2 separate regions of the Homo sapiens genome follow, and region 2 is linked to region 1. The links come from fine-mapping of genetic effects on gene expression. A gene starts in region 1. The other region holds a variant in brackets. All regions are shown on one strand. Distances are from middle to middle. Region 1 holds the start of KANTR (KANTR integral membrane protein). Region 2 overlaps IQSEC2 (IQ motif and Sec7 domain ArfGEF 2).

What was found.
Region 2: its variant is fine-mapped to the expression of KANTR in prefrontal cortex (GTEx, PIP 0.93).

What each region holds. Positions count from the first base shown.
Region 1 is chrX:53,091,228-53,096,749 of GRCh38, forward strand. KANTR (KANTR integral membrane protein) reads left to right here and starts at 2,915. Exons shown (of 3, transcript NM_001397448.1): 1 at 2,915-3,057. RefSeq lists enhancers at 2,007-2,831, 2,544-2,603, 2,914-3,033 and a silencer at 3,094-3,243.
Region 2 is chrX:53,236,744-53,241,827 of GRCh38, forward strand. It overlaps IQSEC2 (IQ motif and Sec7 domain ArfGEF 2), which reads right to left. Exons shown (of 15, transcript NM_001111125.3): 10 at 5,041-5,084; 11 at 2,452-2,551; 12 at 1,402-1,563. Among named protein-coding and RNA genes, the nearest start is that of KDM5C, 14 kb to the left of the region's middle. The variant T/C (reference allele first, on the strand shown) is at 1,974.

The DNA.
Region 1 (5,522 bases):
AAGGTCACATCTAGCTCCAAGATACTGTCTTCGCTGAAGGCCAGAGAAGACAGGCCCCATTGGCTGAGACCTTAAACAGAAACCAGGAGGATGAAGAGTCATGGGCCCAATGTGCCCTAGGGCCTGTTCCCATGTTGAAACTACTTGTCTTCATATGCTTCCTAGCTTGCCCTCGCTCCTTTGCAGCAGAGGGCCCTGCTCCTGGGTGGGAGGTTCCTGGGATTTCCTGGGACCAGACCTTTAAAGTGCCACCTACTTCTGTGAGTAGAATCGGATTGGCAGGGACAAAACTAGATTCAAGAATGTCCCTCCTTAGGTGACCCAAAGGGCTGGCACTGGCTCCCCCAGTTGGGGGTGTGCAGGATGGTTGGGAAGGAATCCTATTATTCATTCAGTAAACACTTATGAGTACTTACTGTGTGCCTGAAGTACTGAACTGGGTGATAGGGATACAGCAGGGAAACAAGATAGAGCAAGTCTTTTTTTTTTTTTCTTTGTTGCCCAGCCTGGAGTGCAGTGGCACAATCTCCGCTCACTGCAAGCTCCGCCTGCCGGGTTCACGCCATTCTCCTGCCTCAGCCTCCCGAGTAGCTGGGACTACAGGCGCCTGCCACCACGCCCGGCTAATTTTTTGTATTTTTAATAGAGACGGGGTTTCACCATGTTAGCCAGGATGGTCTCGATCTCCTGACCTCATGATCAGCCCGCCTCGGCCTCCCAAAGTCCTGGGATTACAGGCGTGAGCCACCGCACCCAGCCAATAGAGCAAGTCTTTTTCCTCCTGGAGCCTAGAGTTCAAGACAAATATTCTTAATATTTTTTGTGCCATGGACCCCTTTGGTGATCTAGTGAAGCCTAATGGGACCTTTCTTTTTCTTTTCTTTTCTTTTTTTTTTTTTTTTTTAGATGGAGTCTCACTCTTGTTGCTCAGGCTGGAGTGCAATGGTGCGATCTCGGCTCACTGCAACCTCCACCTCCTGGGTTCAAGCAATTCTCCTGCCTCAGCCTCCCGAGTAGCTGGGATTACAGGCGCCCGCCACCACGCCCGGCTAATTTTTGTATTTTTAGTAGAGACAGGGTTTCACCATGTTGGCCAGGCTGGTCGGGAACTCCTGACCTCAGGTGATTCACCCGCCTCCGACCTCCCAAAGTTCTGGGATTACAGGCATGAGCCACCATGCCCCACCAGACCTTTTCTCAGAAAAAAAAAATTGTTTAAATTCATAAAATAAAATATCTAGAATTACAAAAGAAATTGATTACATTGAAATATAGTTATTAAAATATGGAAAAAGCAAATATGTGCTATAGTATAATCGTATATGTACTCCCCATTAATCCATTAAATCATAAGATTTAATGGAGGGTCTAATGACTATCATGATTTTAAAATAATGATTGAAATTATATGATTTTCAAGAGATCTGCAACATCTATAATGTGATATGAAAATCTCTGATTTCTATTAGTGACAATCAGTACTGCTACTACTGCTGCTACTATGCCTAGTTACATTCTTTATTGAAAAATGCTAAATTTCAGTTAGAGGAGAGGGAAAATAAAGATGTAATTTTGTTTTATTTTTTTGAGACGGAGTTTCAATCTTGTTGCCCAGGCTGGAGTGCAATGGTACGATCTCAGCTCACGGCAACCTTCGCCTCCCAGGTTCAAGCGATTCTCCTGCCTCAGCCTCCCTAGTAGCTGGGATTACAGGCATGTGCCACCACGCCCGGCTAATTTTGTATTTTTAGTAGAGATGGGGTTTCTCCATGTTGGTCAGGCTGGTCTCGAACTCCGACCTCAGGTGATCCGCCCGCCTCGGCCTCCCAAAGTGCTGGGATTACAGGCATGAGTCACTGCGCCCGGCCATAAAGGTGTAAATTTGTTCCCATCCAAATTCATGGACCTCTCCAAACCCTGTCCCCAGCCTCGATTAGAGGTCTGCAGAATACAAATTAAGAACCCTTGCAAATAGGAGGGTCCTTCCCATCTCTCCTTCCTTCTTAAACAGTTTTCCTTTGGAAGCCTGGGTTTTATTCTGGGTCTTACTGCGCCGACTGCCGGCGGTGTACGGTAAGAAGACGCAAAGACGGGGCGGTGGTGGGGAGTGGTAGCGGGAAGAGGCAGGGCCGGAGCGCGCGAGGGGTGGGGCCTGGCTGTGTGACTTCAAGCCAGTCAGTTTGCCTCTCTGGGCCATAAGTTCTGTCCGCCTGAATACTGGGAAAGAATTGGGAGGAGAGAACTTAATTATTTATGCCCCAGGCAACTGATCTATATTTGCCCTCTCATTTAATCCTCACACATTGTGAGGAAAATTTTAAAACATCTTTCCATTTCCAGATGGTTAAACTGAGGCTCCTAGCGAGGTTGTCACTTGACCAATGTCTCAGCAGGTATCAGGGACTGGTAGGTGACACGCCACATCCCCATAGCCACCTCATCCTCCATGCATGGAATAAGGAACTCTGCTCACTTTGAGCGAGAGAAACCTGGCTTAGGAATCTCTGCAGGTGGGTGTGGAACTGTGAGAAACTAGGGGCAGAATCGCGTCTCTTAGCAGAGCGGTGGCAGTGCAAGGTGGCTTATGGAGAGTAAAACGTCAAAGAAGCCAGGCATCTCGATTGTGCAGTGACTCGGCGCCTGGCGTGGCTTCCGGCTTCCCGCCTGCGTATTCCCAAGTAGCCGCCTGAAGACCTGTCGAATAGACAGGCAAAGGGCCATGACAAGCACTCCTTTCCTGGCCAATCCTATTAAAGGGTGGGCTTGGCTCTTTAACCAATCAAAGTCCCCCGAAGGGGCGGAGTTTTCCTCGGTTTGGCTCTAAGCCTCGGGGGTAAAAATAAAATGTTTCCATCCCCAGCCAATCCCTGGAAAGGCAGAAGGGCACTCCTCCAATGGGAGCCGGGGAGCCGTCGGTAGCGGCGTAGGCCCGTGCCCCTGCTCGCGCTGCAGCCCGTGGAAGGGTTCCGTCCAGCGTATCCTTCAGATCTTGCTGTAGGCCTCTGGTGTCTGTGCGCGCGCGGCAGGGGCGGCGGCGGCGACGGCCGGAGGTGTACGGTGAGAAGCCATAAAGACGGGGCGGTGGGGGGAGTGGCAGCGGGAAGAGGCCGGCCGAAGCGCGCGAGGGGTGGGGCCTGCGCGAGCTTTTACTGGGGCGGCCTCTCAACCCTAGGTCAGCGGGTTGCGGAGGATCGTGCGGGTCGCAAAGGGAAGCCGAGTGCTCCTGCGGCTCCCAGACTGCAACCAGGTGAGTACCCTGCGGAGCGGTCGGTGCCCGTTGCTGCCCTCCCGCGGCCCCACCTCCCACCCTCAGTGTCTTTCGAAACGGTTCCATGCAGGTCTGCCGCTCACGTGATCGTCTGCGTGCGTGTCTGTCTTTGCATCCCCTCTCCCATCTCTGTCTCTGTCCCACTTTTTGAGACGTAGTAGATATAAGATGCTGAATCCTGACCAGTTTAAACTAGCTATGAAACCTTGAGCTATCTCCTTCACCAGCCTGGGCCTCAGTTTCCTCATCTGCCAAATGGGGGTCTGATAATGTGTACCTGAGACAATGCATGTGCATTACTTTGCCCTGCACCCGGTCCTTAGAAAATTTTCAATAAATAATGACTATCTTGACTGAAAAGAATATTGTCTCTCTTGGTTTCTGTCTTTTCTCTGTCTCTGACCCTTCCTCCATTGGATCTTTCTGAATGCTTCTGTCTTTCTCTGTTACTGTTTTTCCTCTTTTTACCCGTCTCTTTCTCAACCCTAAAGAGGTTAGAGGTGCATAGTTTATAGCAATAAGTTTTACCCCCGAGGACATGAGCTTAGCCTGGGGCTCCGACCTGTTCTGTGGGTAAAAAATGGAGCCTGGCTTTGGGTTGCTTCTGGTGTCATTGAAGAGAGAACTCTCTTTGCTCCCCAGCCTACTCTGTTAAACAGGTAGAGACACCCAAAGTTGGGAGCAACTTAGATTAAAAACCACTTTTTAATAGCCCCTTATCCTATATAATGTTAGTCACCACAGGAAGCCCACAGATCTCCTGGTTATGTCTCCATACAGCCCTGGACATCCTATTTTCTATTTCCATCCTGAAATCCTTTGACCAGGCCTTAAGGAACTCACCTTCAGTTATCAGCAAAATTCCCTCCATTCTCATCCTGGCTTCTGAATACTCCCTTTATTTTCTTGCTATGCTTTGGTCGTTCTCATACCTGTTGGACCCAACATTGCTTTTTTTTTTTAATAAGGTGTATTTTGAAATGCTTCACTATTCTAAAATGAAATGGATAGAAAATAGAATCTGTCTACACCCATAATTCCCTGAAAACCAATATAATGCCCTAATTGTAATATAGAGAGTAGTAAAGGAAGAGTAATATATAATATTATATTATACATATATCGCACATATATATGCAAAGACTGGGATATGACTCCATTAGAAGACATGATGAAATGGTCTTACACTTAATGATAGTGACAGCTACATGTGTGTTGATTGGTGATTCAGAAGCCACAGGTAGAGTGACACAGTTTTCCTAAATAATGAACAATTCTTCACAAAGTTCTAAACAAAACAATGTGGAAGAGTTTCTCAGTTTATATGGTCGTTAAATTTCTGGAAAAATCAGTATATATTAATATCCATGATGAGACCCTCTTAATCTCCCTGACCTTATCTCCCACCACTCTCCCCCCTTGCTCACTCTATCTACCCATGCTGGCCACCTTACTATTACTTGAACACCTTAGGCACACTTCCGCCTCAGGGGTTTTGCATTCCGTGTATCTGGAATGCTCTTTCCTCAAATACCCACAAGGCTCAGGCCCTTGCTTCCTTCAGGCCTCTACTCAGCTGTCACTTTCTCAGAGGGCCCCCCAACCATCCTGTTTAAAATTGCAGCTCTCCCCTAATATGCCCCTGCTCTGTCTGTTCCATGGTATTCTACACCTTTTTCACAGTGTAGCATTAACTGCTTAGTATGTTTGCTGTTTATTGTCTGACTCTCCCACTCAATTATAAGCTCCAGAAGGGCAGGGATTTTTGTCTTTTTTGTTCTATGATACATTCCTATTACCTAAAATAGTGCTTGACACCTAGTAGACTTTCTCAATGAATGTTTGTTGAATGAATAAAAGAACAAATGAACAGGTTTTTCACCTACATTACTGGTGAGATATTCTAAAGTTGTATGGAATGTGGTATGATTCTTTGTGGTGTGGAGCTGTCCTGTACACTGCAGAGGGCTGAGCATCCCTGGTCCATAGCTAGGGTTGTCACTGATGATCTCCAATTATTGTCACAGTCAAAAATGCCCCCCAAACAGGGCCGGGTGTGATGGCTCACGCCTGTAATCCCAGCACTTTGGGAGGCCAAGGTGGGCAGATCGCTTGAGTCCAGGAGTTCGAGACCAGCCTGGCCAACATGATGAAACCCCGTCTCTACAAAAAATACAAAAATTAGCCGGGTGTTGTGGTGCACGCCTGTGGTCCCAGCTACTTAGGAGGCTGAGATGGGAGGATTGCTTGAGCC
Region 2 (5,084 bases), 150 kb after region 1:
ATCCCTCTTGGTGCCTGCTCTCCCTGTTCCCTTTCCCTTCCTTTCACCCTTCTGACTTCTCCCCTCCCATGCCCTCTTGCAATCAGGTCTCCCAAAGCACCCCTGCCCTTCAAAAAAGAGCTTCATGGCAGATGGTTCACAGTAAGGATGGTAAGGCCCTTCTAGCCTATGGCAAAGGGCAATCTTTCCAGAGTTCAGTCAGTTCTCAGATACCTTGCTCCGGAGCAGAGGGGCTCCTGGAAGGGCAGGAGCAGGAAACTGACAGGAATCAAATCCTCTTATTATGTGCCAGGCAGTATGCTGGGCGCTACACATACTTGATCTCTCTCAGTCCTCACAACAGTTCTGAGGTCAGTATTAGCATCCACATTGTGCAGAGGAAGAAACTGAGTATCCGAGAAGTCTTAGAGCTTGCCCAGGGTCATACAGCTGGAAATGGCAGAGCCGACATTCTGGAAGCAGGTCTGCCTGATTCCAGAGCTTGGGTGCTTCCGGCCTCCTACAGCCCCACCTCCCCACGGAGCTCATAGAAACACGTGTCTACTGGCCTCCCCTCGTCTTGGGCTACTAATCCCTCTCTCAGGATTTCCCCAGGGTCTCAAAGGATCTGGTGAACTGAAATTTCTATCCCTGCCTCGCTGAGAAGTAGAGTGGCCCTGGAGCTGTGAAGGCCTCACCAAGGAGCTGTCCGCCGCCTCGTCTCTGTCTGCCTGCCTCTTTCTCCTTAACACCATGTTACTTAACTGTGACTGCTTAGCCTGGAGAAGAGAAAACTTGGAGGGCATCGGGAGGAATGAGATGTAATCACTATTTTCCATTATATATATATGATCAAAATGACTTGGTGTGGCCCCTGGGGGCTGAGAGGATAGCCCACTGGGATTCAGCTCAGGAATTGATATGTGGGCAGAGGAGGAGAGAGGGTGGGACAGGAAATACGGATTTTTTGAATGCCTAAGATGTGTTGGGACATTTCGGCTACCTTGTCTCATTTCATCTCCATGACTCTGTGAAGGAGACTTCATTACCCCAATTTCGTATAGGAAGAAACTGGGGCTTGGCAGGTTAGGCAATTTGCTGCAGTTCACCCAGATAATGAGTAGTATACCTGGGATCTAAAACTATAGTCCTACCTCCAATACTCTGATTCTTCTCCCTGATACCTTTCACTAGAAGGAATAGTTGGCTCATAATTAGAGTTCAGGATAATAATGGGGTTGGGAGGTAATGAGCCCCTTGTCACTGAAGGTATTCAAGCAGAGGCTGAAGAATTCTTGAAATGAGGATGGGAAGGTTGGACAAGCTAACCCTCAACTCTGAGATTCTCTGAGGATAGGATTCTTGGTTTCTGCAGGGTACTGTTTCAGGAGAGCAGGGAGGAGACATGGCTGGGCTACTCACACTCCACACGGTATTTCTCCATCTCCTGCACCTCCGCAATGGACTCGCGCAGGTCGGATGTAAAGCGCAGCCGGTCCTGGAGGCTGGGGGCATTGAAGATGATGAGGACTTTTCGCTCCCCACCAGGTACTGCAGACAGCAACTTGATCCCAAACTGGTAATCTGTGGAGAAAGGGGAGACTGGGCACCTCTGTTGGGACTGGTGCAAGGTGGCTCATACATAAAATAATTTTTCTTTTCTGCTCTTTTTTTTCTGAGACAACATCTCTCTGTCACCCAGGCTGGAGTGCAGTGGTGCCATCATGGCTCACTGCAGCCTTGAACTCCTGGGCTCAAGTGATCCTTCTGCCTCAGCCTCCTGGGTAGCTGGGACCATGGGCACGCACCACATGCGCAGATTTTTTTTTATTTTCAGTAGAGATGGGGTCTCACTATGTTGCCCAGGCTGGTTTCGAATTCCTGGGCTCAAGCGATCCTCTTGCCTTGGCCTCCCAAAGTGCTGGGATTACAGGTGTGAGCCACCATGCCTAGCCCATGAAATAATTTTTCTACTGTCTAACTCTGATCATGCC[T/C]CTTCTCTGCTTGAGCATGTTTAGCAGCTCCCCTTTGCCCCAAAGCCCTCAAACTCCTGGTAGCTGTGGCCCTCTTACTCCCTGTACTGCAGGATGTAAAGGCACACAACTATGCACTGCTCTCTCGAAACCCTTTCCTTCTCACCTCTGCCTCAACTCACATTGCTTCTGCTGCCAGGAATACCACGCAACAAAGCTCCTCCTGGTTCATCCTTCAGAGCACAGCATGATCACCGTCTCTTTGGCCCACCAGAGAACACATGCACTGTGGTTCTCTGCAAGACCATGAGCTAACCAGGGGCTAGACCCAAGTCATACTCCACCCTGGCCTGCCCCTCATCCTGGGACCAAGTAGGTGCTTTGGAGACCCTTAGTCCGGTTGTAAGGGACTCCGAAAACTGGAGCTGGTATAGATGACGGGTGAGCATGGGGGCCATGACATAGACTCTCAGGAGCTGGGATCCAAGAAGGGACTCACATGAATTCTGGAAGAGCTGCATGTGCATTTCCACGAGGGGGAAAGACTGACGGAAACTGTACGTCACCAAGATCTTCTTCTTCTGGAAAATTTTGGTGACCTTTGGCAGGGGTGGGAAAAAGACAAGAGGCAGCGCTTTGGGTGGGGGATTTCCACGTGGCACCTATTTCTGGTAACCACCCTCCCCTCCCACCCCATTAACAGACACACACACACAAACACACATGCCCACAAGCTGGGGAGAATGGAAGCTTGAGGGACAGAATGGGAGACATGGAAGAAAACGCAAGTTCCTGATGTAATGACCACGCACCACAGACATTTACCACATTTCCAGAAACTAACTGAATCCTGCTTCCTCCAGGAAGCCTGCTCCAACATCCCACAGAGATTTGTAAACCCCTTTTCTGAGCTCCAGAATGGTGATTCAGTGCCTTTCCCTTGTCAGGCACTATGCTAGTCCTCTGAGTGTGTGATCGCCCCCTGCTGGACTGGAGGGCAGGAGTCTGGTTGTCGGGTTCTGTCACCAGGCCTTACCAGAGCCTGCACTTAATGGCAATCTCTGCTGAACCCATGTAGAGAGTTAATAAGTCTTCCTCTCAACAACCCAATATCTTTGTCGAGTACTTGGGCACTCTGGACTCAACTAACACAGGCTGCAAACACCTCAGGCGGTCTGCAAGTGGCTCGTAAAAGGAAATGTTTTGATTTCAGGATGGCACAATGACGCAAAGCACTTTTTTAGGTCCTTTGGGCTGTGAGCTCCCTGAGAACAGGGACTAAGTCTGATTCATCCTGGCATACCCAGTGCCTAGCATAGAGCTGGACATACACCAGTTTCAGTACCTGAGGGATGTCTACACATTGACTGTGTGGGCCAGGTACTCCCTGGGGTAGGGCAGATTCCACATATAACCTCTTATTTCATTTCATCCTCATGACAATCCTGTGAAGTAGGGGTTAGTTCCATTTCACAGAGGAGGAAACTAAGGCTCAGAGGGAGCATGGAAATACTTCGGCTAAAGCAGCAATGCTCAACTGGGGGTGATATTGCCCCCAGAGGACACGGAGCAACATCTGGAGACATTTTTGGTTGAAGGGTTGCTACTAGCACCTAGTAGGTAGAGACCAGGGTGCTGCTAAACATCCTACAGTGCACAGGACAGTCCCCGCAAAGAATTATCCAGCCCCAAATGTCAACAGTGATGAGACTGAGAAACCCTGCTCTAAAGGAGAGAAGACCACAGGGAGAACAGGATCAAGAGAGTCCTCAAATCCCTGGAGAGCTGTCTTGGAGCAGAGGTACAACACTTGTTCTTTGTGATGCCAAGGGTTGAGTGCAGATGGCTGGAAGAAACCCACAGGGAGACAAATTCTAGCAGTCAGAGCTGCCTAACAAGGCAACTGGCTGCCTTAGAGGAAGGCGGCTTTCTGTCCCTGCAGTCATACATCCAGTGGGCCATCTAGGAAGCTGGACCCTGAAAGTCCCTTCCAACCTGCAAAGTCCTAAGAGTCCCATCCCTAAAAGACAAACATCTCTACTTGTAATGAGCTCAGTTTGAAGAATCACTTCAAGCATCTTTTTTTTTTTTTTTTTTTGAGACAGAGTTTCACTTGTCGCCCAGGCTGGAGTGCAATGGAGCGATCTCAGCTCACTGCAACCTCCGCCTCCTGGGTTCAAGCGATTCTCCTGCCTTGGCCTCCCCAGTAGCTGGGACTACAGGCATGCGCCACTGCGCCCAGCTAATTTCTTATATTTTTAGTAGAGACGAGGTTTCTCCATGTTGGCCAGGCTGGTCTTGAACTCCTGACCTCAGGTGATCCACCCACCTCGGCCTCCCAAAGTGCTGGGATTACAGGCATGAGCCACCGTGCCTGGCCCAAGCATCTTTTTTAAATTTTGTTTTTATTATTTATTTATTTATTTTTGAGGCAGGGTCTGGCTCTGTTGCCCAGGTTGGAATGCAGTGGTGCGATCACAGCACACTGCAACCTCTGCCTCCTGGGCTCAAGTGATCCTCCCGACTCAGCCTCCCAAGTAGCTGGGACTACAGGTGCACACCACCATGCCCGGCTAATTTTTGTATTTTTTGTGGAGACAGGGTTTCGACATGTTGCCCAAGCTGGTCTCAAAACTCCTGGGCTCAAGTGATTCAAACTGCCCTGGCCTCCCAAAGTTCTGGGACTATAGGTGTGAGCCACAGTGCCGAGCCCACTTCAAGCATCTTGATTACTGAAGATTTCCAGACTGACCTGGGGGGTCGCAGGTTCACCCCTCTTCACACAACCCTATGGGCTATTGAGGTGGACAGGGATATTTCCTACCACTTCCCAGGTTGTAAGTCTGTCATCTCCTTTGGTCCTCATATTTTCTGTCCCTGTGTGTCTGTTACTACCTCCAAATGCATCTGTGAGGAAAAGGAGGGGCAGAGAAGGCCTGGGCCTTGCCTGAGACCATGCAGATGGCATGGCAGAACACCTCGCCCGCCACACTCCACACACCACACACCTACATCAATATGGTTCACACCAGACTTAGGTGTCAAGCTCACTCTCTCCCTCCCATCTCCTCCCCCACAGTGCTCATACCACAAGGAGATCATTGAAGAGGAAGACCTCCCGCTGATGCAACC